Linked DNA regions of Homo sapiens: region 1 is linked to region 2. The links come from fine-mapping of genetic effects on plasma protein levels. Region 2 holds a variant in brackets. A gene starts in the other region. All regions are shown on their forward strands.

Region 1 (16,553 bases), not on the chromosome of region 2:
ATAAGTTTTCATTTTCTTGGAGAAGTGCCCAAGAGTGCAATTGTTGAGTTGTATGGTTTTTGCATATTTAGTTTCATAAGAAAATGCCAAACTGCCTTGCAGAGGTGGCTGCTGGAATAAATCCACCAGCAATTTATAAGTGATCCAGTTTCTCTGCATCCTCAACAGCATTTGGTGTTGTCACTATTTTCATTTTAGTCATCCTGATATGTGTGTAGTGATAACTCATGTAGTTTTAATTCACATTTCCCTGGTGGCTAACGATGCTGAACACCTTTTCATGTGCATTATTTGCATCTGTGTATTCTCTTCAGTGAATGTCTGTCTTTTGCCCATTTTCTAACTGATACTTCTCACTGTTGAGTTTTGAGAATTCTCTATATTCTAGACACTAGTCCTTTGTCAGATTTGTGGTTTGCAGATTTTAAAAGAAATTTGTAATTTGTCTTTCATCCTAACAGGGTCTTTCTCAGAGCAAACATTTTAAATTGTGATGCAGTCCAATTTATCAGTTTTATGAATTATGCTTTTGTTGTCAAGTCTAAAAACTTTTTGCCTAATCATAGATCCTGAAGATTTCAAAACCCAGGTGTTAATTTGATCAGGTCTGCCTACCCTGCTTGGTTTTTTTGGTCGCTTGCTTCTTGTTATTTTTTTTCCTTCCTTTTTCCATGAAGCTGAAGGCCTCAGTAGCTGAAGCCCTTGCTGCTGCACACTGAAATTTATCCTTCCTTGGCTCCTTTATCGGTAACTCATGGGTCACCATGGTAATGGTCACTTCAGTTGTTTTTCAGGAACTTGGGCCAGCTCCTGTCCAGTTTGAACTGGTTGAGGCCACTGCCCCTTCAACTGGGCTTGTGCAGGTGCTGGAGAGGTGGCCTTTTGATGTTAGAGGGCCAAAGCTTCTCCCTCGGATCATGCTAATGCTGGCATTTTCTGTGCATATGTTCCATGAAATGACACTTGTGCAGAACCTGCCACTTCATTTTTCCCCCACTGTCAATCACCTTTCCCCACACCTTAGACCACCCCACTTCCCTAACCCATAAATATCCCTAAGCCTCATCTTTGGGGAGGCAGATTTGAGAGCTGGTCTCCCACCTCCTCACCTGGCAGCTTTGTAAATAAATATTTTGTCTTTTGCAAATCCAGGTGACTGTGACTGACTTACTGTGCATGGGCAGAACAGACCTGGACCTGGCTGATAACAATTTTCTCCTATTTTTCTCTTAAAGTTTTATGGATTTATACCTGTGATCCATTTTGAGTTAATTTTTATATAAAGTGTGAAATTTAGGTTGATGTTCATGTTTTTACCTGTGCACATCCAATTGCTCCAGTACCATTTATTGAAAAGGCAATCCTTCCTTTATTTAATTGCATTTGCATTTTGTGAAAAATCACTTGGACATATTTGTGTAGTCTATTTCTGGATTTTTCTATTCTGTTCCATTGATACATGTGTCTACTCCTCTGCCAATACCACACAGTCTTGATTATTGGTTATGTTTAAAAAGTTTCTGAACTAATTCTCAGTGTGGCCTGAGAACCATTTCTGAAGCTAGAAGAAAGTCTCCAAGAGACTGACTAGTCCAATTATCCCCTGTAATCCACAAAGGTATAGTCAAAGTGTGCTGTACTGAGAGTCAAAAGACCTGGGTCTTGTAGTCTCAGCTCATCAGGATGTGGCTGAGTGACCTGGCTAGGTCTTTTAGTCTGAGTCCCAGTTTTCTCACCTGTGGAACTGGGATGCTCATACAGCACTTGTTTAGCCTACCCTCCCAGTATGCTTGTGAGTGTAAAAGGAAATATATTTGATCTATATGTAAGGTTTAGACTTAAGCATAATTCAAATACAAAGGGTTCTTATTTTAGGGATAAGCACAATGAGATTCAGAGATTAAGGTTCTCCTTACCCAAAGTCATCTTCTATTTGACTTCGTGGCACCCATCAGAAAATTTCACATATTATTCAGCACATACGTAGTGTCCAAACTCTGCCAGGCACTGTGAAAAGTCCCTGGGGTACAAACACAAAAAGACATGGTCTCTGCCTTAAGAATCTTTCTATTTAGTGAGGACATAATTTTACAAAAGCTAAGTGAATACAAATTAAATTTGTATTGAGTATTCCTTTAGAATTCCAGGACCCTCCTAGTTGGATGAGTCCACAGGACAATAAATCATTGTCCTAGCATCTCTGTAAGTCCCCAGCTATACTTTCAGACTTTCACAGGGATGCACACTGACTTTGGTAGAGTCAACAGGAAAGAGGGTTTTCCTGGACAGAGCTAAAAATCCTGTGAGGTTCACACACTTGTAACCCCTTCCCAGCGATCACCATCTACACTCCAGGATTCCTCTGCCATCCATTTATTAATCAAAAACATCCCACAGAGCCTATTCAGGGCCCAGATGTCAGGCTTAGTATCTGGGTGATAAAATAATGTATACAACAAACTCCCATGACACGAGTTTACCTATGTAACAAACCTGCACATGTGCCCCCGAATATAAAATAAAAGTTAAAAAAATACAATTTTTAAAAAATTTAAAAAGTGTATATTGCCTACATCAGGTGGGGCAGATCGTGCAGACAGTGGGCATTCCCAAGGGTCAGCCTGCTTCTTCTGTGTGCTCCCAGGTCTCATTTCATGAATTGATTTCAGCCAAGGACTATCTATAATGTAACTGCATGTGGACTAGCTTTGTCAGAGAAAAGACTGGATGTAACATTCTTCTACGTAGCCGGCACTGAAGAAAATCTTCTTTGGAAAACAAAGGCTATTACTATTAAATCACTTAAACATTATTACATGCTATTTGGTACGTTCCAAGTGCATGAGAGTAAAGCAAAACACACAATAGCAAAACATGATCTACTGCAGCAAAATCAAAATTCAGTTTCTAGAGTCACAGCTGGAGAGATGCTCTGATGTAACCACAAGTGCCATCCCAGCCACTGGTGAGGCTCTACTGCCCCCGGGTGGCTGAAGTCCTTCTCTGACAAAGCTGCCGGTGCTCTCATGCTGATAATGTTACAGTGATTTTTACAAGGGCAGAGTGGATGTATGAATAGTTGGATGGATGGATAAATGCATGGAGGGATTGGGGTATTCATTCATTTAATAGTATTTAATTTCAACTATTTTTCCACACATGGGGCCAAGAGCTGTTAAGACATGATGTTTGAGATCTGAGATGTAAAAAACTGCATTGGTGTTAATTAAGCTAGAGCTGTGGTCCTAGCTGCTCAGTGCATTGGTCCCAGGAGAATGGGGCGGGGCGGGACGGGGCGGGGAGGGGGGTGGGGTGGGCGGGGTAAGAAAGGATTAAGGAAGTGACCTAAGATAAGAGGGGAGGGACTTCCCAAATATACTTCTTCTAGGGAGACAAATATAGCTCTGGCTAACCCATAGCCTATTAACTCATCACTTGGGTTAACAGGAGAAAGAATAAAAAACAGTAAGTGTGGGGTTAGATGTATACTAGAAGGAATACAGGGAAAATCCAAGGTGGGAACAGGGAGAGTAGGCAGAACACTTTGCTACACTGAAAAACAAAGTCAAACAGGTTAAAACAAGATATGGCACTTGACGTGACTGGTCTTCAAAGATGATGCCACTCAGTATTAGTTACTATACTATTGATGGATATGCAAACTGGTACATTTATTTTGACATAGTGGTTTCACAATCAGGAATTTATTGTCTAGAATTACTTGCATGATATACAGAGAGAAGAACAGATGAGACCACCTGTTATTCGTTTCACCTGGACTTAAATAATAGAGTTAAGACACTTCGAGATGAGGAGTTTCTTCTGGAGATTGAAGATTGTGCTGGAAGTTGTCACTGTAGCTGGGTTAGTATTGTTAGCTCTTTTTAAGGGTCTGTAAAAATTCTACAAGATTCCCAGCGATCTTTTTAAGATTCTATAAAAATTCCCAGTCTTTTGATTTCAATTGAACTCAAATATGCATTTATTGAGCACCTGATGAATGCACACTACTTTGGCTGGGTTTTAGGAGGTTGTGATGCAGGGATAACTCAGATCAGATTCCTTCCCTCAAAGACCTTGGTCTAGAGAAGCCTGGCTTGTAAAAACATAAAATACAGAATTTATGGTGAAATAATGGCTACAATACAGCATTATGAAAATATGGGATAGGGAAGATATGATACATTCTAACTGGAGGGATGATGGAGGGGAGATTCCCAGCAGATGTGGCATTTGAGCCTTGAAACAGAATTTTGACAGCTCTAGGGGAAGAGGGTGGGGGAAAGTGGGGAAGGATTCTTTTCCTTTAGGTTGGAAGAGCATGTGTTGCTATTTATTAAGTCTTTATTGAGCACCAGCAAGGTGTTGTGTAAAATAGACAGCATAAAAACAACTATAAAGGGGAGATAAAATACATCCCTGAAAAAAAGTCATAACAGTAAATGATACTGTTTGATTACCTATCAAAACAGTCTACAGAATCCAGAGGTGAAGCAGAAATGCAGGCTACTTTTCTCTGGGTAGTGAATTAGCCACTTCAAAAATATTTCAGTGAAGTCAGTAAAGGAAAACATGAGGCATAATAAGACATTTCTACCACTAGCCCTCCTTTCTTCACTAGATTTTGTAAAAAGTTACTGTTTCTATTTTTAATTACATGAGTAATCTTGCTTCAAAAAATTCAAGGGATAAGAAAAAGTAAAAAGCAAAATTCTCCCTTCAAAATCCCCTGTTCTCCTCCAATCTCATTTCTCTTTCTGGAAGTAAGCACTATTATCAGCTTACTGTGTTTCCTTCCAGAATGATTTCAGATGAATTCATGGAAATATGTAACTGGTGTAATTTTGCATAAGTGGATATATGTGTTTTTCTGAACTTTTTTACTCAACACCATATTTTAGAGAATTTTATATGTTAGCACATAGACCATGGAGTACAGAGCTACAACATTTTTTTTTTTAAACTGGAATTCCACAATTAGGATATACCTTGGCTATTTCACCGTTTCCTTTTTAATGGTTAACAAGATGAAAACTGCTAAAGTCTTATTGGGGTTTTTATAACCAAACAAGGGAAAAACGACTCCAACTCTGGGCCTAAAAGACATCCTACTTGAACCTCTCACTTGCAGTTCCTCATTCAATCCCCAAACTGCAGTGTGTTTCACAAATCCAGTCTCCTAAGTGAAGGGAAAGCAGGAAACCCTTGACGAATTCAGTAGTAATACAATGAGATAAGTATGTGCTGTGATTCTTAACTCCTAGCCTTCTCCAAAGGGACCAGTGATCATCTAGGGATAAATATGCACTGAAAAAAAAGGAAAATCGCAGTATGCCACAGTAGTTCACTGGTTAGAGTGGGGTTTACAGGGGTGAAGTAATTAAAGGAATTTTAACCCAAGTCCACCTTACAGTAAGTTCGATGGAACCCTAAACCCTTCCAGTGTTTTTTCCCCAATTCCTGAGTGTACATTTAAAGGACATAAGGCAGAATCTTCACATTGGTTTCCTAACCTTTAGAACAAGGGTGAGCAAGATAGAAAAGACTATGAAGAATCCACAGAGCTTTATTACACTCTCCAACCCCCAATCAAAATAGTAATGCACAAGTTATAACAATCCCTTGTTGACTAGCTATAGTGTCACCCTAAAATATCTGAATCAATTATCTTAATTTATACCTGCCTTCCAGCTTGACTGGTAATGAAAACAGATGGACCTGGAAGAATGACTGACAATTATTAACTCAATTAAGTAGTGTACCCAACTGCAGGTGCCTTTCCAAGCATGGTCTCTTTCAAGGAACAAATCAACAGAGACCCTTGTATGTAGCTATTGCTTACGCAAATGCTTTCTCCTCCTCCATTTAACAAGCACTTACTGTCTTACAGTTTCTGTGAGTCAGGAATCTAAGCGTGGCTTAGCTGGGTGCCTCCATCTCTGGGTTTCTCAGGCAGCTACAATCAAGATGTCAGCCGGGCTGTGGTCAACTCCAGGCTCACCTGGGGAGAATCTATTACCAAGTTCACTCACCTGATTGTTGTCAGGCCTCAGGTCCTTACTGGCTGTTGGCTGGAGACATTGGTTCCTCAACATGTGTCCGGAATTGGTGGGTTCTTGGTCTAACTTAAAGAATGAAGCCGTGGATCCTCGTGGTGAGTGTCACAGTTCTTAAAGGCAGCATGTCCGGAATTTGTTCCTTCTGATGTTCGGATGTGTTTGGAGTTTCTTCCTTCTGGTGGATTCGTGGTCTAGCTGGACCAGGAGTGAAGCTGTAGACCCTCATGGTGAGTGTTACAGCTCTTATGGTGGCCCATCTGAGTTGTTCATTCATCCCGGTGGGTTCGTGGTCTCACTGGCTTCAGGAGTGAAGCGGCAGACCTTCGCAGCGAGTGTTACAGCTTATAAAGGCAGTGTGGGCCCAGAGTAAACAGCAGCAAGAGTTATTGCAAAAAGCGAAAGAACAAACCTTCCACACGACAGAAAGAGACTCCATAGGGTTACTACTGCTGGCTCGGGCAGCCTGCTTTTATTCCCTTATCTGGCCCCACCCACATCCTGCTGATTGGTTCACTTTACAGAGAGCTGATTGGTCCGTTTTGACAGGGTGCTGATTGGTGCATTTACAATCCCTGAGCTAGACACAAAAGTTCTCCAAGTCCCCACTAGATTAGCTAGACACGGGGTGCTGATTGGTGCATTTACAAACCTTGAGCTAGACACAGAGTGCCCATTGGTGCATTCACAATCCCTTAGCTAGACATAAAGGTTCTCCAAGTCCCCACCAGACTCAGGAGCCCAGCTGGCTTCACCCAGTGGATCCCACACCCAGGCGCAGGTGGAGCTGCCTGCCAGTCCCCGGCCCTGCGCCCGCACTCCTCAGCCCTTGGGCGGTCGATGGGACTGGGCGCCGTGGAGCAGGGAGCGGCGCTCCTCAGGGAGGCTCAGGCATGGCAGGCTGCAGGTCCCGAGCCCTGCCCTGCGGGGAGGCAGCTAAGGCCTGGCGAGAAATCGAGCACAGCAGCTCCTGGCCCAGGTGCTAAGCTCCCCCCAACTGCCCGTGGCCAGCGGGGACGGCCGGCCGCGCTGAGTGCCGGGCCCACCGAGCCCGCCGAGCCCACGCCCACCCGGAACTCGGGCTGGCCCGCAAGCGCCGTGCGCAGTCTCAGTTTCCGCCGGCGCCTCTAGTCTTGCTTCCCTCCAGTCCATTCTTCATGCTACAGGAAGAGTGAGTTTTCTGGAATACAAATCTAATCACAACCGTTCCCAGCTCAAAACCTAGCAGTACTCTAGTACTGGTGCCTCAGACTAAAATCCAAGCCCCTTGCTTCCTGAGGCAGAGATGAGTGTACGTGAATTTTTAAAAATAACCATACAGAAAAACAGATTCTTTGGGATGTGCAGTTCTGCGAATTTTTATTTTTATTTATTTTTTTGAGGTGGAGTCTTGCTCTGTCGCCCAGGCTGGAGTGCAGTGGCACGATCTCGGCTCACTGCAACCTCTGCTTCCCGGGTTCAAGTGATTCTCCTGCCTCAGTCTCCCAAGTAGCTGGGACTACAGGCGTGTGCCACCACCCACGCCTGGCTAATTTTGTATTTTTAGTAGCCACGAAGTTTCACTATGTTGGTCAGGCTGGTCTCGAACTCCTGACCTCAGGTGGTCCGCCCACCTCGGCCTCCCAAAGTGCTGGGATTACAGGAGTGAGCCACCGTGCCCGGCCTTCTGTGAATTTTAACACATGTATAGATTCTTGTGGCCACTGCCATCTATTAGTCCCCAAAACAACCTCATGCTATCCTTTCATAGTCGTACTCTCCCTCATCCCTACCCCTATCTTTTTAAGAAGGTCAAAGAAATGGAATGTGATCTTTTGAAAAACAAAAACACCCAAGCCCCTTAGGGCGTTTTTAATGCCCTTGCCTACCTCTCCTCCCTGTCCTCCAACAACTGCCCTCCCAAGCCCCACAATGCAACTCGCCGGAACTATGCTCAGTTCTTGGGGTGCTCCAAGCTGTCCTCCACTTAGCCAAGCTCCCCACCCGCTTCCGGGGGTGGGTTTCCACTGTGCACAACAGTACCTAGCGCTTCCCCCACTACAGCCCCCTTTCACGCTGTGGTAATTGCCAGGTTATCTGCCTCTCCCATTACAGTTCCTTCCTCACAGGGACCGCGTTTAAACCACGGCGGTATCCCTACCGCGCAGGATGGGCCGAGCCCCGCACGCCCCGAGGCAGCACCCCGCACGCAGTAGCCGGGCGTCGAGGCGTTCCCAGCCCACACCAGGCGCGGACCTACGAAGGCGGAGCGAGCATGCGCACTAGGAAGGGGCGGGGCGGGGCGCGCGCGATCCCCCGCCCCCTGCACGCGGTCCCAGGAGGGGCGGGCCTTGGCCGCTCGCTCTCCCCTCCCCCATGCCGCTGCGCTTGCGCGCTGGGGACAACCGTTGCTGGGTGTCCCAGGGCCTGAGGCAGGACGGTACTCCGCTGACACCTTCCCTTTCGGCCTTGAGGTTCCCAGCCTGGTGGCCCCAGGACGTTCCGGTCGCATGGCAGAGTGCTACGGACGACGCCTATGAAGCCCTTAGTCCTTCTAGTTGCGCTTTTGCTATGGCCTTCGTCTGTGCCGGCTTATCCGAGTGAGTGACGGGCCTGAGGAGGCAGCGGACCGGGGACACCCTGGGGGAACTTCCCGAGCTCCGCGACCTCGAAGCCTGGCCCTTCCTTCTCCCTGGTCCTACATGCCTCCCTCCCCCACTGTCCGGGGTCCTGGCCTCGACGCCGAGGGGTGTCCCTCTCCTCTCCTGGTCAGGGAACGCAGCAACTGAGGCGGCGCGGCCCAGATGAGACGGGAAGCGCCTGCGGGCCGTGGGCGCGGGTGGAACCCCCTCACCTCACCGGAGGCCTTCCTCTGCCCACCCGATCCTTCCCCAGCCATTGGGCGTGTGACCGTGCAGGGGTCGTGTGACAGCTGCTGGCCAGCTAGGAATGATTTTTACATTTTCTTCCTTTTTTTTTAATTATTATACTTTAAGTTCTAGGGTACATGTGCACAGCGTGCAGGTTTGTTACATATGTATCCATGTGCCATATTGGTGTGCTGCACCCATAACTTGTCATTTACATTAGGTATATCTCCTAATGCTATCCCTCCCCCCTCCCCCCACCCCACGGCAGGCCCTGGTGTGTGATGTTCTATTTTTGCATTTTCAAAGTAAATATGAAATGTACTCTTTCATGACTTGTGGAAAAGCATGACGCTCACATTTCATTGTTCGTGAATAAAGTTTTACTGGCACACCACCACGCTCATTCCTTTACGTATTGCCCATGGCTGCTTTCCCACGTTAGAACAACGGGGTTAAGTGGTTGCCACACAGTCTGGTCTGCAAAGACTGAAGTATTTACTCTCTGGCCCTGTACAGAAAAAAAGGTTGACCCGTACGGTAAAATTTGGAGAGCATGTGGATTGTGGGTCGCGGTCTGGGACACTCACCTGAGGATGCGCTCCCAGAGAGCATGCTTGCGCACACGGCATTCAAAGCCTTAGTTAAGCAGGATTATAACTTAAGACCTGCCAAGGAGCAATTTTTGTCCCTCCCCGAAAGCTGAAAACCAATAAGGTCAAATTCAGGGGTGCTAAGACTTTACTATATTAACAATATCATGTGGGCACCTTAAGGCACTTAGTATTTAAGTCAGGTAGGTGAGGCTTCCCCATTTAGTCTAACTGTAGTTCATTGTGGCATTTAGTAATGTTGGAGTTTGGTTTCACTTAAATCAATAAATACAATTTAACAGGTGTAAAAAAAGCGCTATCGTGCATGCTGATTATGCAAATCTATTTTTCAGAATTGCTAAACGATCTTAGTTAAAAATCAAATTTAAAAACTGAAAATACAACACAATCTAAATTATGAATAGTAATGGGAAAAGTTCTAGATGAAGTTCTAGGTAACTAAAGTTAGCTCTTTAAATACTAGCATTTATGATTTGTAGCTGTTTTTAATAAAAAGTTTTGTAAAATTTTTCTTCCTTGACATAGAGGACCAGAACATAATGAAGATGCTACTATCTTTTCTTGATGTCTGATGATCATTATTACTAACACCAGTTATTGCATTTTGGTAGTTGTAGATCAGCAAGTCACAAGTGACTAACATATATGGAGACTTTAACTGAAGTGACTTTAACACTGTCACACAGTACACTCTGGGACTGCTAGGTAGGAGTCCCTGGACACCCACTTAACTCAGTGCAGTCTCTTGCCTAACACCATAATTTTCCCCTCCCCCTCCCCTTCCCTTTTCCCCCCCTTTTTTTTTTGCCTGAGACAGGGTCTCACTCTCTAGCTCAGACTAGAGTGCAGTGGCCCGATCTCGGCTCACCGCAACCTCTGCCTCCCAGGCTCGAGGGATTCTCCCACCTCAGCCTCCTGAGTAGCTGGGATTATAGGCGCACGCCACTACCGCCTGGCTAATTTTTGTATTTCTAGTAGAGACGGGGTTTCACCATGTTGGCCAGGCTGGTCTCGAGCTCCTGACCTCAAATGATCCATCCGCCTCGGCCTTGCAAAGTGCTGGGATTACAGGCTTGAGCCACTGTGCCCAGCCAGCCTGTTGTCTTTCTTAGCACCCTATTCCCTAATCTTTCTTGGGAAGAAAGAAAAGGGTTGTAGGAAATGAAAAGACGCTTCCCAGAAAAAAGGAGTGATTTTGTGTTGAATATATAGATGTTATAAGACATAAGGAAACTATATACAGGTTGTAATCATAGAAGATGTCTTGGAATATGTAATTACCTTTCTTCTACAGAAGTGGATTAAGGAATATATAGAGCAGGCAGTGGTACATGGCTGCTTTCTCTGTATCTGTCTCTCTACTTTTTCTCTAATTTTAATTTTGTTTTTAAAATAAGTATACCAAAATGCGTATATCATTGAGCTTGATGTAAATCAGCTATGCATTCTTTTATATGGCCACTATTCAAACAATTGTTGGCGAGATGCAAAAGATAAGGTACATAGGTTTTTATAATGAAAAGTGCAGCTTTGACACATTTTTTCTAGACTACTAGACAGTTTTGAGGTTATTACGCAAACATCACGGGTGTATTAAGTAATTGCATTTATTGAAAACCTCAGTACTTCTTGTATCTGCCTATACCTTTCTAACAGGCCCAATCCAAGCTTAGCTAGTATTTGTTTAATCTAAATTCAGTTAGACATAAATGCAGCTTGGGTATACAGAAGTCGGCACTCCTTTACATACACACACACACATCCTGATGGTGCTGGAGAAACAACGTTTTACTATATAAAATTTTTATACATTCAGTTTCCTCTACCTGATTTTTCCATAGTTTTAAATACTTTGCCATTTTTAAATTTTTGAATGGGAAAGTATTTAATGTATTCCCTCTTTAATGTATTTGCACTGTGCAACTTACTTTACTTTTTAATGAGAATTCTTTTTGCTTTAAAAAAAAAAAAATGCACAGGCCGGGCACGGTGTCTTACACCTGTAATCCCAGCACTTTGGGAGGCTGAGGCGGGCAGATCACCTGAGCCCAGAAATTCAAGACCAGGCTGGGCAACATGGCGAAACCCCGTCTTTACAAAAAATACAAAAATTAGCCAGATGTGGTGGGGCAGGCCTGTAGTCCCAGCTATTCGGGAGGCTGAGGTGGGAGGATCACCTGAGCCCAGGAGGTAGAGGTTGCAGTGAGCTGAGATGGCGCCACTGCATTCCAGCCTGGCTGACAGAGTGAGACCTTGTCTCAAAAAAAAAAAAAAGCACAGTAACTTCTAAAGTAATATTAACATAATAGTTACATATTTAAATAATATCAACTACTATTAAAATTATATAATTGGCCTTTTTAAATTTTAAGTCATCAAATATTCATGGGCTGGCAGTGCAAACTAATTAAAATTAAAGTGTGTTAATATTAATTTAATATTAATATATGTTAATTTTTAAATGATTCAAACTTTGCATAATAAGTATAAATAAAATTAAAATATTAATTTTGGGGTATCTCCCAAATAAATTATTTCCTCTAGATCATCTCTTGGTATAGACTAGGAAAAATAGGGTTAGTCTAGGATTACAAAAGCTCTTATTTCTAGATTGGTATTATAAGAAGGCTCAATGTATCAGTCTTTGGCTTCTGTCATTGTGTTTAGGAAGGATTTTGTCCTAATGAACCACAGAAGGTAAGGGAAACAATAAGGCAGCAACCAGCAACAATTGTTTGAATCTATCACCAAATAAATTAAGAGGAAAAGAATATTCTTTTATTTCAAATACATTCTAAAGGTAAAGTTCACTGAGTTCTGGTGCTGCAAGTTCACTTAGCTAGTGCCCAAGGCTACAGCATTTAAAAGGTCTCTCAAACCTGTGAATAAACTGTCATGACACACTTTGTTAATGTTTGAGATAATGAGGAGCATGTCATCCAATAGGCAAGTGTCAAGAGAGTATTCTGTGGGGGAGTAGCAGGAAGTTTCATTAGCCTGTCCATTGATGTTTTATGGGGGAAAAAAGTCCTGTCTTTCTGTTCTGTTGATCATATTATCCCTTAAATGGATATACTTTAATCTCTTGATAATATATGTGAAATTAAACTTAAGCAACATTTTTTATCTCCAAATAAAATACTAGTTATTTGAAAAGAAAATATTTTCTTTTTTTTTTAGTATCACTATATATTTGAAGCATTTTAAAAACACACAATTTATTTAACCTAAGTATAGTTTTTTCCGAGCCTCAAATATTCATACCTTGACCATTTGGAGCCATTGTAAGCTGTCTTCTCTTGTTCTTTTGATAGGATCCCATATATTTTTAAAGACTTCTTGTTTTCTGATGTTAACTGATTGTTCCAAGCCCACTTTGTGTCTTTCCCACTCTATCTTTCTCACTCTGAATGGAATTAACTGTCTTTCCAAGGGGATGGAGAACATGGTATGAGAGACCAAAGTGCCTGCGATACATACTAGACTACTGCAGTGGGGAAATATTGTTATTTTTGTCATTTTAGTGAACAGAACTAGAAGAGAAAGATTTAAAATAATGAGTTTATTTTGGTTTCAATTATAACATTACTCATAGGATGCATCTTGATTTTTAACTCTTTATCCGCACTAGAATTGTAACATAATTTAATAAGGCTATTTTGGTTGTGTATTGTGGCAAAAATGACTGCTCCCCAAATTTATCATTTTTCATGATTCTATGGGTTCACTAGACTCAGCTGGGCAGCTCTGCTTCATATGGTATAGCTGAGGTCACTCATGCAGCTGCATTCAGCTGGAAGTTCAAATGGATAGGAACATCCCAGATGGCCTCTCATCCTCCAGGGTCTTTACATGACTTCTCATCTTTCAGTACTCTAGCCCAAGTTTCTTTACACCATGGCAGCTTGCTTCCAAGAAGGAGATTTATAAGCCCCAACATGGATGCTCTTACGAAGCCTACACTGTATCAGACTTGCTAATGTCCTATAGGCCAAGACAAGTCACATGGGGCAAGCCCATATCCAATGTCAGAAGACACTACCCAAGAACATGAATAGCAGGAAGTGTAAAGCCATAAAGTTACATTTCTTTAACTGGAACACTTGATTAATATGAACATAATTACTTGTTTATTTACCTGTCAGCAAAAATTAAGATTTGTGTAATAATAAATTATAAGAAAATTGCTGGATGAATAAGAAGATTTAATATTTCCTTTTATGACCATTCCTTGAGTACACCTCAGTAATTAAGCACAATTATTACTACTTTGAGTTGGAAATACAGTACTCCAGCTCAGTTCGTTTTAAAATTTTAACCTTCATAAAAGTTCATTTTAATTTGAAGGTGTTGGATATTTTAACTGGTAGTTCTTGCATTATTACAGCTTTCAGTTATTAATTCTTACTTTAGTACTTAACTGCTGTAGAATAAGGGAAGTTTATTCTTTATGAGTCCACTTCATGGTATGTATAGAAAATACAAGCAATTTGTTCTCCAAAGTTATGGACATTCAGCCAGAGTGTGTGGACCATCTATAAGTGATGGATGCTTGGGTATATGTTTAAGTTTTATATACATGAGTTCTTTATGGATAAAGCCATTTTGTTTTCACTATCATTGTAATAAAAATCCTAGTTATATTCAAATCTTTAACAAAATGAGCATCCATAATTGGTGATTAAATTTTGGGTGCAATCAGCAGTTGCCATATCAAGGCTACTGGCCAAGGGCAAAGTAGAAATGTATGTGTATCTACACAATGAAATATTATTTGGCCATAAAAATCAATGAAGTACCGATACATGCTACAACATAGATGATCTTGAAGACATTACGCTAAGTATAAGAAGCCACTCACAAAAGGACACATATCGTATGAGTCCATTTATATGAAATGTCTAGCATAGGCAAATGCGTAGCTACAGAAAGTAGATTAGTGGTTGTCCAGGGTCTGGGGGATAAGGGATATGGGAAATGGATTTTACTGTGGGATGACAAAACTGTTTTAAACTTAGATTGTGGTGGTGATTGCACCACTCTGGACATACTGAAAACCATTGAATTTCATACTTTAAGATAAATAAAAGGTAAATTATGGAGGTATTTTAATATTAAGATTGTGATTTACTTACATTAAAATTATGTCAATGCAGTATTACTTTAGAGATTGATAAAATTCAATGAAAGGTAATTAGTAGAACATAAGTTTATGTGATCTAAACTTACATTAGGCTATTTAGTAAGGGGCAGTTACAAGAAGTATGGGGGCTCTCTGAGAAATGGAGCTATTTCACCATGATGTTTATGATGTTATTTTATATAAACTTCACACTTAGAAATTTAGAAAGACGTAGTAAGCTGTGTCTTTTATTATAAAAAACTGCTTACTTTGCCTAAAATAAAAGAACATTCTTATTACTCATTTAAAATTTTCTCTGTAATAATTATTGGACAATTAGCCAGAAACTGCTCCCCACACAATAGTTTTTAGACTAACAGATTTATTTTTAAACATAACATGAAGTCTAGTTTTCTTCCTCTGTATTCTTCTGTAGAAATGTTTTACCTGTGATTATCTTAGTAAGATAAATTACTAGAAGTGCAATTAATTTACATACCTTCCAGCATTCTGTTCATTCATTCAGTTATTCATACTTTTTGACTGTCTAGTATGGTTCTAGGCACTGGGTAAAACAGAGTATATAATGAACAAATTAGATGTGTCACAGCTCTCAAAGAGCTTACTAAGTGTAACAGTTAACAAATATTAAACTAACAAATACAGTTAGAACTGTCTAAATTCTATAAAGAAAAGATCAGTATGCTAGAGAGAGACTAAAGAAGGATCTAGGGATCAAAAGGGGAGTAAGGATGGAACTTATTATTTTTTTTCTTTATTTCTTCTAAAAAAAAAACAGGATCCATGTGTAGAACGTGCAGTTTCTTACATAGGCATACGTGTGCCATGGTGGTTTGCTGCATCTATTGGCCCATCCTTTAAGTTCCCTCCCCTCACCCCCCACCCACCAACAGGCGGTGGTGTGTGTTCTCCAGGGGCTGGGGTATAGGGGATATGGGAAATGGGTTTTATTGTTCTCCTCTCTGGGTAGGAGGGAACTTATTTTACTAAGGAAGTAACATATACACATGCCAGTCCTAGGTTTTATCATTTAAAAATATTTGCCTACTTGACTGGCAAAACAAAAATTGTTTTTAATTTGCATATCTTTTATGAACAATGAATTTTAGCAAGTTTTCATGCAAATTGGCTTTTATGTTATTCTCTTCCTCCTTTAATTGGTCATTCTATGAAAAGGAAATATATTTCACATGTATTATTTATTGAGTGAAGTTTTAAATTTTATTTATTTATCTATTATTTTATTTTATTTTTTTGAAATGGAGTTTCACTCTTGTCCCCCAGGCTGGAGTGCAATGGCACAACCTTGGCTTACTGCAACCTCTGCCTCCTGGGTTCAAGCGATTCTCCTGCCTCAGCCTCGAGAGTAGCTGGGACTACAGGTGCATGTCACCATGCCCAGTTAATTTTTGTATTTTTAGTAGAGATGAGATTTCACCATGTTGGCCAGGCTGGTCTCGAACTCCTGACCTTAGTTGACCCACCCAAAGTGCTGAGATTACAGGCGTGGGCCACCAAGCGCAGCCTGAAATTTTATATTTCATTGCTCATTTTAAATCATGATTTTATTATTTTCCTCATAATAAACTCAAAAGTAATTAACTTGCCTTTTATTTCTGTGTGAACGGGATGTATTTTTTTGTAAGTCATTGATTGTCAGTTACTTGTACTTTGTAGTAAGAAAATACTGTATTTGGATTATTTTCAATATTACTAGATACATCTTAATATGCGAAAGGGATGCATTTTGGTCCATTTGATGATAGAACAAAATTTGGTCATATTTAATTTAATTTAATTTTAATATTTACATGTAGTTTAAAATATTTTGGTCCAGTTGACAGCACAATTTCGGATACTATATTTATTTATTTGATTTTATTTAATGTTCACA
Region 2 (16,553 bases):
GCAACATAGCAAGACCTCATCTCTATGAAAAAAATTTTAAATTAAAAAATTAAAAATTATCTGGGCATAGTGCCACATGTCTGTAGTCCCAGCTACTTGGGGGGCAGAGGCGGGAGGATCACTTGAGCCCAGGAGTTTGAGGCTGCACTGGAGCTATGATTGCATCACTGCATTCCAGTCTGGGAGACAGAGTGAGATCCTGTCTTTAAAAAAAAAAAAAAGCAACCAGAACCAAAATTCCTCTTCCTCAAGTCTAGTTACAGACTCCTCTCCCAAAAAGCACGCTATAAAACCTAGAAAGGTCTCTCTGTCCTCCTTCTCCCTTGCAGACCCTCATTCCAGAAGAGTCCTGCCCCACACCCAGAAGGAAGGAGTGTTACACAGAGAGGCCAAGAAGAATCTAGACAGACAGGCCTTACTGGGCCTCCCCACTTGGTCTATTGCCATGAGATCACATGATTTGTCCAATCACATTTCTACATGGCCGTCTATTCTTCATCAAACCTAAACATAAAAATACAATTTTCCTTGGGTCTTTGAGTCTTCATTTCTGTAGGCTCCCATGTCACATAAAATTTTGATTAAATAAATTTATAATGCTTTTCTTTTGTTAGCCTGCCTTTGTTATAGGAGTGTTGGCCTTATGATGGTAAGGAAAGGTATCACGCCTTTCCATCCCTAAACAAGCAATGATTACCATCTAATTAAATTAAACAAAAATGCACGTGCCGGCCGGGCACAGTGGCTCACACCTGTAATCCCAGCGCTTTGGGAGGCCAAGGCAGGCAGATCACCTGAGGTCAGGAGTTCAAGACCAGCCTGGCCAAAATGGTGAAACCCCGTCTCTACTAAAATATACAAAAATTAGCCGGGCATGGTGGCAAGCGACTTAATCCCAGCTACTTGGGAGGCAGAGGCAGGAGAATCGTTTGAACCCGGGAGGCGGAGGTTGCAGTGAGCTGAGATTGAGCCATTGCACTCAAACCTGGGGGTAAGAGTGAGACTTCGCTAAAAAAAAAAAAAAAAAGCATGTGCCAAGCACTGTTCTAGGCACTTAGGGAATACCAGAGAACCAAAGGAACAAAAATCCCCACGTTTGAGGAGCTTATGTTCTGGTGGAGGGAGAGAGATAATAATTAATATACATAATAAATAGACTACATATTAAACATAGGTTAGGGTGCTGCATTATAAACTACTGACACTGTGAGATCATCAGTGACCTGGATGGGCAGTTTCAGTGGGGAGGAGGCAAAGGCCCAACTGAAGTGTGTGAAAAGTGAACTAGAGGAGAAAGGAGAGGTATTGGAGACAGTGGGTCTGGCTAACAAGGAAGTGGTAGCTGTAAGGACAAGTGGGCTGAAAGGAGACTTTCTTGATGAGAATGAATGAACTCAGCTGGGAGAGCTGCTGGGGCCATTTCTTTGAGCCCATGCAGTTGTGAGGCCCCTGGCAAAAATCATATGACACTCTCCAAAGAGGGAGCCTGGAGAGATTATAATAGAGGAATGGGCTGACTTAAGAGAAGGAATGGTGAATCACAGGGTGCTCACAAAGCAGGAGGGCCATGAAGGAGCAAAATCAGGGGCAGTTATATGAAATCAAGACAGGGAGCTTTAGCCACAGGAAAGGGTTGCCCAACCAAAGCCGGAAAAGAGCTTCTGCCCACCTAAGGCCATGGGGAGGGATTGAGGATAAATACCCCAAAGTCTCCCTCCTCCACCCTTCTCTGTACTACTTGTACCTCCCATTGTCTCATCCCAACAGAAGTCAGAATGCAACGAGATCTGGTTGATACTGCACAGAGATCAGCTCCAGGGCCCAGTGCAAGGAGAAGGTGGAGAACAGATCCAGAAGGGCAAAAGGAGGACACTTAGCACAGTGAGAGGAGATAGTATCTAGTGCACAAATAGAGGGACTGGATTTAGAGAGGGACATGGATAATTCACCTGCAGGAGGGACTCTTAGCCTTTATATATACCATAAATTCTTTGATGGGTGAAATTTCTGGATGGTCAGAATAATGTTTTCAAATGCATAAAATATAAAGGAATACAAAGAAAACTAATTATATTAAAACACAGTTATCAAATCATTGAAAAAAAAAAAAATCAAAGCCAGGTGTGGTGGCACATGCCTATAGTTCCAGCTACTCAGGAGGCTGGGGCAGGAGGGTGGCTTGAGCCCAGGAGTTTGAGGTTGCAGTGAGCTATGATTATGCCTGTGAATAGCCCTACTGCACTCCAGCCTAAGCAATATAGTGAGACCCCCATATCTAAAAACAAACAAAAAAAACTGTGATACATTAAAGCATGTGTTTATTAATGCTGTATATAAGATCTAGCAGTGGGTCGAGTAACTACCATAATTTCAAAGTAGACTGAGTACCGTGGCTCATACCTGTAATCTCATAACTTTGGAAGGCCGAGGTAGGCACATGGCTTGAGCCCAAGAGTTTGAGACCAGCCCGGGCAACATGGAGAAACCCTGTCTCTAAAAAAATTAGCTGGGTGTGGTGGCATGTGCCCATAGTCCCAGCTACTTGGGAGGCTAAGGTGGGAGGATCATTTGAGCCTGGGAGGTCAAGGCTGCAGTGAGCTGTGATAGTGCCACTGCCACTGTACTCTAGCCTGAGTGACAGAGCGAGACCCTGTCTCAAAAATAATAATAATAATAATTTCAAAGTGGTAATACACGTATACAATATTTTATGAGTTCTACAAAAACTGTTTCATATATCTGTAGTGTCTTTCGGGGCTAAAAGCACAGGTACTGCTAATGCTACATTTATTAACTACATTCATAGTTGAAAGACATGCTAGATTTCAGATAAAAGTCATTGGAAATAAACTTTCAATCCCACATGCAAGATCACGACCCTGTGGATTCTGCCCCCAGACCCTTTAGGAGGAAGGCAGAGTGTGAGGCCACAGAAGTCGACAGGTGGGGAAGATAGATGGTAGGAATCTGCAGGAACTTCTTCTTGCTTTGCATTTCTCAGTGAAGAAAGAGTCAAGTCATGAGCCAACAGTGAGGATGGAAAGGTAGATGTGAGAGGTTGAGAAGAGAGAAGGCATGAAAGAGTCTTCTAGGAAAGTGGGAAAGTGAATGAACTAGGAAATAGCATGTGATTACCAGGCAGCACAAAGGGCCCATCTGAAGTTCATGGTCATGGAATTTAACGGGAGACTGGTCAGCAAGGGTGTTTTCTTCTAGCCACGTTCAGCTTCACGAGAAAAAGACAGGCTAGAGGGAGAATTGCGTTAACCGCTGCTGGGTTTTTGCCGTGTGAGTATAACAAGAAAGGGGCAAGGGAGGAAGAAGTGTGCATGCTTAAAGGAGGGATTGTAAAAACCCATGGAATGCAGATTTTTTTGATTTTTATTTCTTATTTCACTTATTTATGTATTTATTTTTTTGAGACAGCGTCTCACTCCATCACCCAGACTGGAATGTAGTGGCTCAATTTCGGCCCATTGCAACCTCTGCCCCCCAGGTTCAAGCGATTCTCCCGCCTCAGCCTCCTAAGTAGCTGGAATTACAGACACACGCCACCATGCCCAGCTAATTTTTTGTATTTTTAGTAGAGACAGGTTTTCACCATGTTGGTCAGGCTGGTCTCAATCTCCTGACCTCAAGTGATCCGCCTGCTTTGGCCTCCCAAAGTGGTGGGATTTCAGGCATGGGCCATCATGCCCGGCCAGAATGTAGTTTAATTAGAAGGGAAGAGAGGACATCAGTAAATAAGGCACACTGAAAAAGTGGTAGACTTGATGAAGTGAAGCTCCCACAAAGGCTCAAAGACTGTAGAATCAGAGTATAAGAGAGAATGAATGGAGAGATAGGAGGTAGTTGTCAGACAATGGGATTTTAAACATAACCTTTTGTGGTAGGCAGAAATCCTCCATCCTTCTAAAATGTCTAAGTCCTAATCCTTGAAACTTGTGACTATATTATCTTACATGGCAAAAGCAATTTTGCAGATGTAATTAAGTGCCTTAAAATAGGGAGCTTATCCTGGATTATACACATAGGTCCAATGTAATTGCAAGGGTCCTTAAAAGTGGATGAAGGAAGCATAAAAAGAGAGTCAGAGAAAAAAAAGGTGACAACAAAGCAGGGTCACAGTGATGCTATGTTGCTAGCTTTGAATATGGAGGAAGGAAGCCATGAACCAAAGAACGTGGGTTGCAGCTGGGAACTAGAAACGGTATAGGAACAGATTCTCCCCTGAGCCTCCAGAAAGAAACACAGCCCTGACAACACCTTGGTTTTAGACCAGTGAGACCCGCGTTGGACTTCTGAGCTACAGAACTGTAAGATAATAAATGTGGCCGGGCGCAGTGGCTCACGCCTGTAATCCCAGCAATTTGGGAGGCAGAGGCGGGTGGATCACTTGAGGTCAGGAGTTCAAGACCAGTCTGGCCAACATGGTGAAAACCTGTCTCTACTAAAAATACAAAAATTACCTGGGCATGGTGGCGCATGCCTATAATCCCAGCTACTTGGGAGGCTGAGGCAGGAGAATCATTTGAACCCAGGAGGCAGAGGATGCAGTGAGCTGAGATCGTGCCACTGCACTCCAGCCTGGGCGATAGAGCAAGACTCTATCTCAAAAATAAATAAATAAATAAATAAGTGTTGTTTTAAGCCACTAAGTGTGTTGTAATGTTTTACAGCAGTGATAGAAAGGTAATGCATCTCTTAATAATCAGTTTCATGCAGACTTAAACTTTGAGGAATTAAAGTATAATTCTAGATAACAAAGCATAAACAAGAAGCCATGAACAGAAGACTGTTATTTTTTTAAACTTGGAGAAATTAACTTAATGTTAAAGGTGAATATTAAATAAGGCCTGTATAACATTTCTCTGTTTATATGTTTTCTTACTACATTTAATACTTTTTCACTTTCTTGATTATGGATTTTTTTTACTTTGTTTTCCTCACCTCCATAGGTTTTTTGTTCTTTATCAGAATTCTCATTTTTTTGGTTCTCTTTGGGAGTAATATTTATAGAAAATTGAAGAATGTGTGCAAATTTAAAAAGTACAATGCACTCTTATTATTATTATTTGTTTGAGACAGAGTCTCACTCTGTCACCACGCCCAGCCACTCTTATTATTGATATGGATGATAAATGTAAGTCCTTTAGGGTTTCCCGAGAATATTCAAATGTGTGGAAATGTGCGGTGGCTCACGCCTGTAATCCCAGCACTTTGGGAGGATGAGGCGGGCAGATCACGAGGTCAGGAGATCGAGACCATCCTGGCTAACACGGTGAAACCCCGTCTCTACTAAAAACACAAAAAATTAGCCGGGTGTGCTGGCGGGTGCCTGTAGTCCCAGCTACTCGGGAGGCTGAGGCAGGAGAATGGTGTGAACCCGGGAGGCAGAGCTTGCAGTGAGCCGAGATCGTGCCACTGCACTCCAGCCTGGGTGACAGAGCGAGACTCCGTCTCAAAAAAACAAAAATAAAAATAAAAAACAAATGTGTGGAAATATTTCAAATGATGTTAAATACCATCTACTACTGCTGACCTAGGTTCCCCCATATCTCAATAGTGTAGTAGGCGTAGGGTTAGAGATAGGTTACAATGACTTCTGCAGATTTGGCTGAATCACTTATAAACCTTACTAGCAAGATTTAAGATACATTATAATTATATATCCTAAGACCTATAAAAATAGGTTATACAACTGATTTAAAGAAATCCTTATAATATATATAGATGATTCTTTCAGTAAATTGCTCTTACCTTCACATTTTTTTTTCTTTGAGATGGAGTCCCACTCTGTCGCCCAGTTTGGAGTGCAGTGGTGCAATCTTGGCTCACTACAACCCCCGCCTCCCAGGTTCAAGTGATTCTCCTGCCTAAGCCACCCGAGTAGCTGAGATTACAGGCACCCACCACCACGCCCAGCTAATTTTTTGTATTTTTAGTAGAGACGGGGTTTCACCATGTTGGCCAGGGTGGTCTCAAACTCCCGACCTCAGGTGATCCACCCATCTTGGCCTCCCAAAGTGCTGGGATTACAGGTATGAGCCACTGCGCCTGGCCCAAAAATATTTTTAAAACTTAATTTTTTTTTCTTTTTTGTTGAGACAAGGTCTTGCTCTGTCCCTCAGGCTGGAGTGCAGTGGCACAGTCACAGCTCACTGCAGCTTCAACCTCCTGGGCTCAAGCAATCCTTCTGTCTCAGGCCCCCAAGTAGCTGGGACTTATAGGCACGGCCACCACACCTGGCTAATTTTTGTATTTTTTGGTAGAGATGGGGTTTCGCCATGTTGCCCTGGCTGGTCTTGAACTCCTACGCTCAAGTGATCCACCCGGTTTGGCCTCCCAAAGTGGTAGGATTACAGGTATGAGCCACTGCGCCTGGTCTAAAACTTAATTTTCTTTATTCAACTTAGCATCCTCTTGCATGTCTGCTTTATTATTCTTGGTGTCTAGTAATTCTACTTTATTTGAATGTTTTTAATTTAATATCAGCTCAGATTTATTTGTAGACTTTTCTCTATTACTCTTTTCTTTGCTGTGCTTATGTGTGGGTTTGGAGGTGGTTTTTTTTTTTAAGTAATGCTTACTTTTAATTTAATATGTTCTTTATATTAAAATCATTCTCTGAAAATAAAACAAATGTACCGATGTTGGTATATGTATATATTCAGTATTTTGTTTAATATAACATTTGAGTTCAGGTTTTGGACTGAATATTTTTTAAAAGGAAGTTTTTCAGGAATTTGTTTTTCAACTCTTCCTCCTCAAAAAAACTTTTTTCTTCCTCTGTTATTGTGAAAGCAAGTTGTTTTCATGTCTCGTGTTGTTTTTTAGATTTCTAAAGCATATATCCATAGCTATTTTGTTTCCTTCTAAACAAATGCCCAACAAAGCAAACCACTAGAAGAAATCAGATCCCACAAAGCGTAAGTGCAGAAAAGTAAACTCCCTAAAGACACAGGCTCTTGGGATTCCACTGGAAGAGCCAAATCCTTAACAGTGTTTGTAAAATACAAATCATCATTTTTGAGCATTTACTTTACGGTCAATTATAAATAAGATCACTACGTACCTAAGTTTTTTATTTTTACTTTTTAAATTTTGTCTAAGTTTTAATAACCTCACAGTGAGTCTCATGATGCCAAAGGCAAAGTTTCGTGGTATTAGCTTTAATTGAGTCAATATGTTCATTTAAAATAAATATACGTGTATAATTCAGTACACAGCTCATTTTCACATTGCCTTCTGAAATTCTATCCCTGCGAAAGTGAATGGGGATCACTTACAAAATAATCTTAATAGAATTATTTTTATTTTTCCCTTCTAAAACACCAAGTATTTTAGTTTTTAGTATTTTTCAAGCACAAACAAGAGCATTTATAATAACAGTATATTATTTCTCTGTAA[T/C]GGTGACAGCCTCTCGTCTCACTCAGAAGAAAGTCAGTGTGACCTAGGAGGCCCATCCTGTAACCTAGAAGGCCCATCATGATCTGGCCCCCTCTTACCTCTGTCATCTCATCTCCCGTCACCCCTCGTCCCACCTCCCACCATTATCTCCACCCCAGACACACTGGTGTTTGTACTGTGCCGTATTAGCACACTCTCAACTCTGGGCCTTGATCCCTGCTGTTCCCTCTGCCTGGAGTACTCTTCCCAGATAGCCACATGACTCACTCCCTTGTTGCCTTCAGCTCTTTACTCAAAAGCCATATTCTTAGTAAAGTCTTCCTGGCCCTTTATTTCAACCACCTTTTCCCTAAAATTTTATATCCTCTTTCCTACTTTTTAAAAAAATCCCTAGAACTGATCAACTACTTAGCATACTACATACTACATATTTTATTTATTTATTTATTTATGGAGACAGGGTTTTTGTTGTTGTTGTTGTTGTTGTTGTTGTTGTTTCCCCAGGCTGGAGTGTAGTGGCACGATCTCAGCTCACTGCAACCTCTACCTCCCAGGTTCAAGCAATTTTCCTGCCTCAGTCTCCCAAGTAGCTGGGATTACAGGCACCTGCCACGACGGCTGGCTAATTTTTTGTTTTGTTAGTTGAGACGGGGTGTCACCATGTTGGCCAGGCCCGTCTTGAACTCCTAACCTCAGGTGATCCACCTGCCTCAGCCTCCCAAAGTGCTGGGATTACAGGCATGAGCCACCATGCCCTGCCTCTTCTTTTAATTTTTTTTTTAAGAGATAGGGTCTCACTATGTTGCATAGGTTGGCCTCAAACTCCTGGGCTGAAGGGATCCCCCTACCTGAGCCTCCTAAGTAGCTAGGACTATAGGCGGTGCCACCTTCCCACCTTGTCTGGCTCAGGATAAACATTCTTATTATCTGCCAAGAGTTGGGTGATAGAGTATACATGTTTCATATCTGTATCAGTATGGTCCAATCAGGAGACAGAATCCACATGGAAATTTGAACAGGGAAACATTTAATATAAAGCATTATTTTTGGCTGGGCGTGGTGGCTCAAGCCTATAATCCCAGCACTTTGGGAGGCTGAAGTGGGCAGATCACAAGGTTAGGAGTTCGAGACCAGCCTGGCCAATATGGTGAAACCCCATCTCTACTAAAAATACAAAAAAAAATTAGCCGGGCACAGTGGCTCATGCCTGTAGTCCCAGCTACTCAGGAGGCTGTGGCAGATAAATCGCTTGAACCCAGGAGGCGGAGGTTGTAGTGAGCTGAGATCCCGCCACTGCACTCCAGCCTGGGTGACAGAGCAAGACTCCGTCTCAAAAAAATATATATATTTTTTAGAAAAATAATTACTATGCTAGTACTGTTACGTTGGAATGGAGTAATGAGAGATTGGCTAGTGAAAAGTAAACACATAAGGAGATATAAGCAGATATACAGAGCAGCTATGAGAAAGAGCACTCAAGGAGGAGCCTCCAGCCCCCAGGACTGAGATCCAGAACTTGCTGGAGAGGGTGACTCTAGCTCACTAGATGGAGAGAAGTTGCTGTGGTACAGCACTGGTGGAACTCGCTGGAAAGCACGCTTCTGGGGAATGCTGTTCAAAGAGAGGTGTCTTAGGGAAGACCCTCCATTACAAAAGTATCTGAGGCAGGTGCCAGGGGAAGCTGCTGGCTGCTGGGTGCTCCTGACCCCGTGACACTGCAGGAGCTAGGTGCTGAAGGAGCCACATGAACCACATACACTGCAGGAACTTGCTAAGCAGGAACCCTGAAACTAGGAAGGAAAGTCCCTTCCCCATCTCTCCAGCAGCCTCTTTTTTTTTTTTTTTTTTTTTTTTTTTTTTTGAGACAGAGTCTCACTCTGTTGCCCAGGCTGGAGTGCAGTGGCACAATGTTGGCTTACTACAACCTCCACCTCCCGGGTTCAAGCAATTCTCCTGCCTTAGCCACCTGAGTAGCTGGGACTACAAGCATTTGCCACCTAATTTTTGTATTTTTAGTAGAGGCGGGGTTTCACCATGTTGGCCAGGCTGGTCTTGAACTCCTGACCTCAAGTGATCCACCCGCCTCGGCCTCCCAAAGTGTTGGGATTACAGGCGTGAGCCACCGCATCCCCAGCCATCACCCTCTATTGACAAAGCTTAACAGAGTGTGCAGGCTGGTAAAGAGTAAATTTTAAAGGGCTCACCTCCATTTTCACAGGGCAGGCAATGAAGGGAGGATTTGAAGTGGAGAGGCATGAAACAGAATACATACAGGCACAATATCTATGTCCAAAAATTATCATAGTAGATACCGTACTATGTTACATATCATTGAGTATTTGGAAAAATTTGTTTCCTATTCTAAAGCTGTATTCTTAGAGGACTATATGGCATATTTCAATACTTTATTCCACAAACGTACCATCTGAAATAATGTAGGCAGAGTATTTGGACTTTCTAAAATGAAAATGCCATCTGTTGCCAGAGTCTACTGGACAAATTTGTTATAAGTCGTAGCTATATTAATAATGAACTGTTCAGGAATGGTAAATTCAAGAATATAAGGAAACAATTGATCAAAGGGAGGCTATTTAAGGCTAGAAACATTTAATGTTAACTGCAGCAATTACAAATATGTCTTACACACTCATTTATGGAGGAAAGTATCCGTATTTGAATTAGAGTAATAAAGATTTGCTTAAAATATTAAATGGTACACTTTGGACAGAAGCCTAAGGTATGTCAGTTCTAAGAAAACATTGTCTGTTAGAAAATTGCCTTTTCTCCTAACTTAAATTTTGTTTGGTATGTTTCTTTTTAATCCAAAATGACCACAATGTTCTTGGACAATGCTGCTAAATATTCTCTCTCAAGGGCTCCAATCAATGTCTCAAAACATTTCCCAATAGATTCCCACAAAGCTTCCCCTTTGTAAGGGTTTATTCAAGATGTAGAAGACAGCACCTACCCCAAAGGCAATTGGAAAACGTAAGACAGCATAGTCCTTTTAAATATTACAGAGAATCAGATGTTGGCAAGGTACACAGGCAGCAGTTACTGGCAAACCTCAGAAGGCTGGGTCTAGGCGGCCAGTTGCATTTGAAAGCAGCTCTTTCCACATCACTAATATATTGAAATACAGTAGTCCTTCCATGGTTTCTGCTGCCCATAGCACAATACAATATTTTGAGAGAGAAAAAGAGAGAGACACAGAGAGAGAGAGAGAGAGACCACATTTACATAGCTTTTATTAGAGTATATTGGTCTATTACATTATTAGTTATTGCTATCAATCTCTCACTGTGCCTAAATATAAATTTTATCATAGGTATGTATGTACAGGACAAAAACATAGTATATACAGAGCTCTGTACCATTTGCAGTTTCAGGCATCCACTGGGGGTCTTGAAACATCCCCTCAGAGAAGGGGAGGGACTACCGTACTTGATAATTATGTCGAATCAACAGCTCATTCACATATTGTAGGCAGAAGAGGGAAAAACTGCTCTAGTATATGAGATGTTTCTTACAAAACCAGAAATGCAAGGTAGAAGGTAAAAGTGATTGAAGTTGTAATAAGTATTTTTTTTCAATGTTTATATTTTTTAGTAGAGACAGGATTTCACTATGTTGGCCAGGCTGGTCTCGAATTCCTGACCTCAGGTGATCCGCCCTCCTTGGCCTCTCAAAGTGCTGGGATTACAGGCGTGAGCCACCGCGCCTGTCCAGATGTTTGGGTTAGAGGTCCTCAAAACCACTCCCACGTATGATGATTCACTAGGAGGATTCACAGGACTCAGCATATAGTTATACTCATGGCTAAGGCATATAGATGATATCTATATATGTCTTTACTGACCTATTGCACAATCAGGAAAGGGAAAAGTCACCTGGGCACAGTCTAGGGGAAACCAGGCACAAACTTCCAAGGTGCTTCTCTCAGTGAATTCACATAGGACTTGCTTAATCTCCACAGCAATGAGTTGTGTCAATACATGTGAAATGTTGCCAACCAGGACAGCTCACTAGAGACACTGTGCCCAAAGCTTCTATTGGGGGGTAAGCATGTAGGCATCCCCTGCCTGGCATGTACACAAATTCCAAACTCTCAGAAAGAAAAGCAAGTATTCAGAAAAAAACACATTGTTTGTACAGTTTTAGGTACAATGAGCCACTCTTATCAGTTAAATGTTGAAAACCCTCCCCAGATCTAAGTTTCTAGATGCCAGCTAAGGGACAATCGTGTAATTGGGCTATTCCGAGGATAGCAGTTCAGGGGTCCTATGTTGTTTTCTGCACAATTTCTATCACAGAGAATAAAGAATATTCTTCTGATAATGATCTCAAAATATCAGTTATAGTTGAGACATTAAATTGTTAGATTTTTACTACTTGGGTGGTTCTATTAAACCAAGGTAAATAATGTTTATTTTTCCTTAAGTCTTTCACAATTTACTATGTATGTTCAAATCTGTCTTATCTTTTTTTTGGTAAAGCAATCTGGCACTGTCATTTTTAATAGAAATTTTCTTTTTCTGGCTGGGAGCAGTGGTTCACGGCTATAATCCCGGCCACTTTGGGAGGCCGAAGGGGCAGATCACCTGAGGTCAGGAGTTCCAGAGCAGCCTGGCCAACATGGCAAAACCCTGTCTCTACTAAAAATACAAAAATTAGCTGAGCGTGGTGGCACATGCCTGTAATCCCAGTTACTTGGGAGGCTGAAGCAGGAAAATCACTTGAACCCGAGAGGTGGAGGTTGCAGTGAACTGAGATGGGCCACCACACTCAAGCCGGGGCAACAGAGCAAGACTCTCTCAGAGGAAAAAAAAAACTTTTTTTTAAGCAGAAAAGTTGTTTTATTTCCCTTGGGAATTAGAAAAAGGACTCGGAATTGTTGGGTGCTCATGTCTACCTTGGAGCCACATGACTAGATGGATTTTTGGATAATTGTCCTGTTTTTTAGCTACCCAGTGTGATACATTGTTTCTTTTTTTTTCTTTTTTCTTTTGAGACGGAGTCTTGCTCTGTCACCAGGCTGGAGTACAGTGGCACGATCTCGGCTCACTGAAACCTCCACCTCCCAGGTTCAAGTGATTCTCCTGCCTCAGCCTCCTGAGTAACTGGGATGACAGGCACATGCCACCACGCCCAGCTAATTTTTTTTGTATTTTTAGTAAAGACGGGGTTTCACTATGTTGGTCAGGCTGGTCTTGAACTCTTGACCTCGTGATCTGCCCACCTTGGCCTCCCAAAGTGCTGGGATTACAGGCGTGAGCCACCATGCCCGGCCACGTTAGTTTCTTTAATGGCCCTTCTGCTCACGATATTTACAAATGTCCTTATCTACAGGCTTCAACATCTTAAAGAACAGAGACACTATGGGTTATTTAATACAATGTGCCGTAACAAGTATTGATTTCCAGTTTGTTTATATTTTAAAGATGTCTGAAAATGTTGACCATATAGTTGATATTTTTCTAAGCTTGCAATTATATATTTTTAATTCATTAAAAAAATTAAATCCCCTAAATTAGGTTTAAGCCCATTTACAAAAAGAGAAGGTAAGTCCCCTTTTACTTCAGATACTAGATCTAACCCAGAATACTGAAAGTTTCCCAAAGTTTATTTTTTATTTTTATCTAATTTATAATCTTTAATCTTTGTCTATTATATCCTTAAAATAAAGGCTTCTATAACTGCTTTATTTAGTGTATATTTTTATATTTAAAACATTTTACAGTTGCATTATTTAAATCTCCTTCATGATTTGCTGCTTTTAGACATTTTTCTTTTTGGTAGGTCTTACAATTAATTGACTTACTTCGTACAGGTCTATAGTTTAGAACAACACTCATCTTTTACAAACCTGGATTCTATAGCACATTTTTGGCTATTTCTCTGAAGACTATAATTTCTTAATTATGGTCCTTAATTTGGCTCTAGACTAGGATTTTAATTCAACTTCAAATATCCATCAACTGATAAATGGATAAACAAAATGGGGTATACCTATTCAATGGAATATTATTCAGCCATCAAAAAGAATGAAGTACCGATAATGCTGCAATGTAGATAAACCTAGAAAACAAAATACTAAGTGCCAGAAGCCAGTCACAAAAGGTCATATGTTATATGATTCAATTTACATAAAATGTTCCGAATAGGCATATCTATAGAGACAGAAAGTAGTTTAGGCTGGGCACAGTGGCTCACGCCTGTAATACCAGAACTTTGGGAAGCTGAGGCGGGCAGATCACTTGAAGTCAGGAGTTCGAGACAGCCTGGTCAACATGGTGAAACCATGTCTGCCAAAAAATACAAAAATTTGCCAGGCGTGGTGGTGCATACCTGTAGACCCAGATACTCGGGAGGCTGAGGTAGGAGAATCGCTTGTACTTGAGAGACAGAGGTTGCAATGAGTTGATATTGTGCCACTGCACTCCAGCCTGGGTGACAGAGCGAGACTCTGTCTCAGAAAAAAAAAAAAAAAAAAGAAAAAAGCAAGCAGCAGGAGAATAAGTGGATTAATGGCAAACATTTTCAAATGGTACACCTCCAGAGTAAAAGGAATAATTACCTTATTAAATACCTGGGTCTGATTAGTAAATGGTGCTTCTCCGAACCAAAAGTTGTCTAATTACTTGGTACAAACACCTAGTCCTAATGGATCTCCTTAGTTATAAATCCTAGAATAGAAGAATAAATGCAGTAATAGGGATTCAATGGAAACAGAGCTCAAATGGTTATTGATACTGATTTCATATGGCAGCTGATCTGGTAGACCAACGAAACTTAGATAGAAGGAGCCCAGTAAGTGCACCCGTTGGTCTGAAGATTGCCTGGAATACTGCCAACCAAGAGTCTTCAAAATGATCTTGGTGGAACCTCCAGAATTACTAAAGGATGAGACTGCTACCGAGCAATTAATGGGCTCACTTCCCAGTGCTCTTAGAAGGCAATACCACAGCAGCAGCTTTTGAGAAAAGAAAAGCTTTAGTGCCAGTCAACTGGCAAGGTAACAGAAGGAAGTGCTCAAGTCTGTCTCTTCAAGCTGAGGGCTGGCTCAGGTTTTATAAGCATAGGGTAATGAAGGGTGATCTGATTGGCTCTTGCAATGAGGTGATGCTGGGAGGCATGATCCAACTGGATACTGCTATGGGGTGACCCCAGGGCTCAATCTGATTGGATCCTGGATCCTGCCATGTGGCGTCCACTTGATTCAGTCCCCACTCCTCAGGCAAGCAAGTTCTGACAGTGGTTGTAGGCTTGGTTCATCTGTGCATGTTCAGGTTACATGACCTTCAACCTGGAGGTCTTTGGCAACTGAAAAAGAACTCACAACTTTGTTACCTAAGTTGAGCCTGACTGGTCTGGTGGAGTTAGAAGACCACCACTCAGTATCTAAACAAAAAGACAAAGCTGGATTTGCATGCTACAGTAATGGAAAGCTATACTGGTCAGGTAGAGTCTGAGCAGGGCAGACTGCTGGACTCTATAGGGTTTGGGGGAAGCATGGAGTTCAGGGATGGGTAGATTCTCAGAGGTATAAATGGGATGGCAGGATCCTTAAAAGCTTGGTTACTCGGATGCTACTATAGTTGGTTGGCTGGTACTCAGACATCTTTTTTTGGAGTGAGTTCATCTCTGGTTGGTTGACTTTCAGACATGAGAGGCTGATGCTGATTGGTTAGCTTGCAAAAGTAGTTCACGGAGGTGAGTTGTGTTTATCAAATGAACGAGTTTAAAACTCATTCTGAGCTGGCCTGGTGGCTCACGCCTGTAATTCCAAAACTTTGGAGGCCGAGGCAGGTGGATCACTTGAGGTCAGGAGTTTGAGATCAGCCTGGTCAACATGGTGAAACCCCATCTCTACCAAAAAAATACAAAAGTTAGCCAGGCGTAGTGGTGCATGCCTATAGTCCTAGCTACTTGGGAGGCTGAGGTGAGAGAATCTCTTGAGCCCAGGAGGTGGAGGCTACAGTGAGCCGAGATTGCACCACTGAACTCCAGCCTGGGTAACAGAGGGAGATTCTGTCTCCAAAAAAAGAGCAAAACAAAATTCATTCTGGTTGCTACTTGGTTCTATGGCTCACAGAACAATCTTTTCCTGTTTGTGAGTTCTTATTCTGATTTTCTTACATAACCACAGCACAATTATCAAATGTAGAAAATTTAGTCTTTTTTTAAATTTCACGACTCCTTTAAACAAAACGTGTTGTTTCCAATCCATAATCACGCATTGAATTTGGTTATCATGACTGTTGAGTCTTCTTTATTCTGAAACAGTTCTGTTTTCCTTTGTCTTTTGTCTTTTATGACATTGTCATTTGAAGAGTACAGGCCACTTTTGTGTTGGACTTGTTTTTTTGTTTTCTGTTTACAGAACATCCTTCAATATGAATTTTTCTGATTCTTCATGGATAGATTTAGGTTATGAAGGTAGAAGTGATGTTGTTTCCTCAGTGAATCATATCAGGGAATCTCAGTGATATCAGCTTTTACCAGTTTTGGTGATATTCATTAGGTGTCTCCACTGTGAAGTTACCGTTTCTTCTTCTTAAAAAATATATCATGGAGGGATATTTTGAAACTGCTCTTCATTAAACTTTTACTCAATGGTTTTAACACCTACTGATTATTGCCTGAATCAATTATTACTAATGTCATTGTTGCAAAATGGTGATTTCCTAGCTGTGACATTCCTTCTCCTTCTTTTATTTCTTTATCTGCACATTTTTAGTATCTGTATGGGCTCTTTTTTCAATCAATGGGTTATAATTCATTGTTCCAGATTCAGCCAGTGGGAGTCCTTCTGGCTGGCCCGAGTCATTTTAACACGTTCCCATCATTTTCTAAGCACTTTTTACTTTCTCAGCCTCAGCCCTGGAATTGGCCAGTTCTCCCTGAATCTGGTTCCTTTTAGTGAACCTTTTTTTCATTAAATATATTTTGGATATTGGTGTATATTAGTACTGGACATTAATAGCTGCAAAGTATTATATAGTGTAGATGTTCCCTAATCTACTTAACATGTCCTCATTGGTTGTTTCTAATCTTTTAATATTACAGACAATTCTGCAATGAACAAATATCTGCATACTTTATTTTGCACATGAATGTGTATATCTGTAGGATTATCATCT

Which allele goes with the higher level. Alleles are on the strand shown, and positions count from the first base shown. The strength of an association depends on the size of the effect and on how common the allele is.
With allele C in place of T in region 2, the plasma level of the protein whose gene starts at base 8,443 in region 1 is higher (weak association).

Evidence for each region. PIP is the chance, under the fine-mapping model, that this variant and not a neighbour inherited with it causes the effect. The UK Biobank Pharma Proteomics Project read protein levels with antibody pairs (Olink). The fine-mapping took linkage between variants from a reference panel, not from the people measured, so its PIPs are less certain.
Region 1: SPESP1 starts here. The variant in region 2 is fine-mapped to the plasma level of the SPESP1 protein (UK Biobank, PIP above 0.99).

Annotation. Positions count from the first base shown.
Region 1 is chr15:68,922,083-68,938,635 of GRCh38, forward strand. SPESP1 (sperm equatorial segment protein 1) reads left to right here and starts at 8,443. Exons shown (of 2, transcript NM_145658.4): 1 at 8,443-8,635. The coding sequence starts at 8,572. It overlaps SPESP1-NOX5 (SPESP1-NOX5 readthrough), which reads left to right and starts at 8,443. Exons shown (of 17, transcript NR_033672.2): 1 at 8,443-8,635. RefSeq lists a silencer at 5,119-5,319.
Region 2 is chr2:151,381,282-151,397,834 of GRCh38, forward strand. It overlaps a transcript of TNFAIP6 not described here. Among named protein-coding and RNA genes, the nearest start is that of RIF1, 20 kb to the right of the region's middle. The variant T/C (reference allele first, on the strand shown) is at 7,411.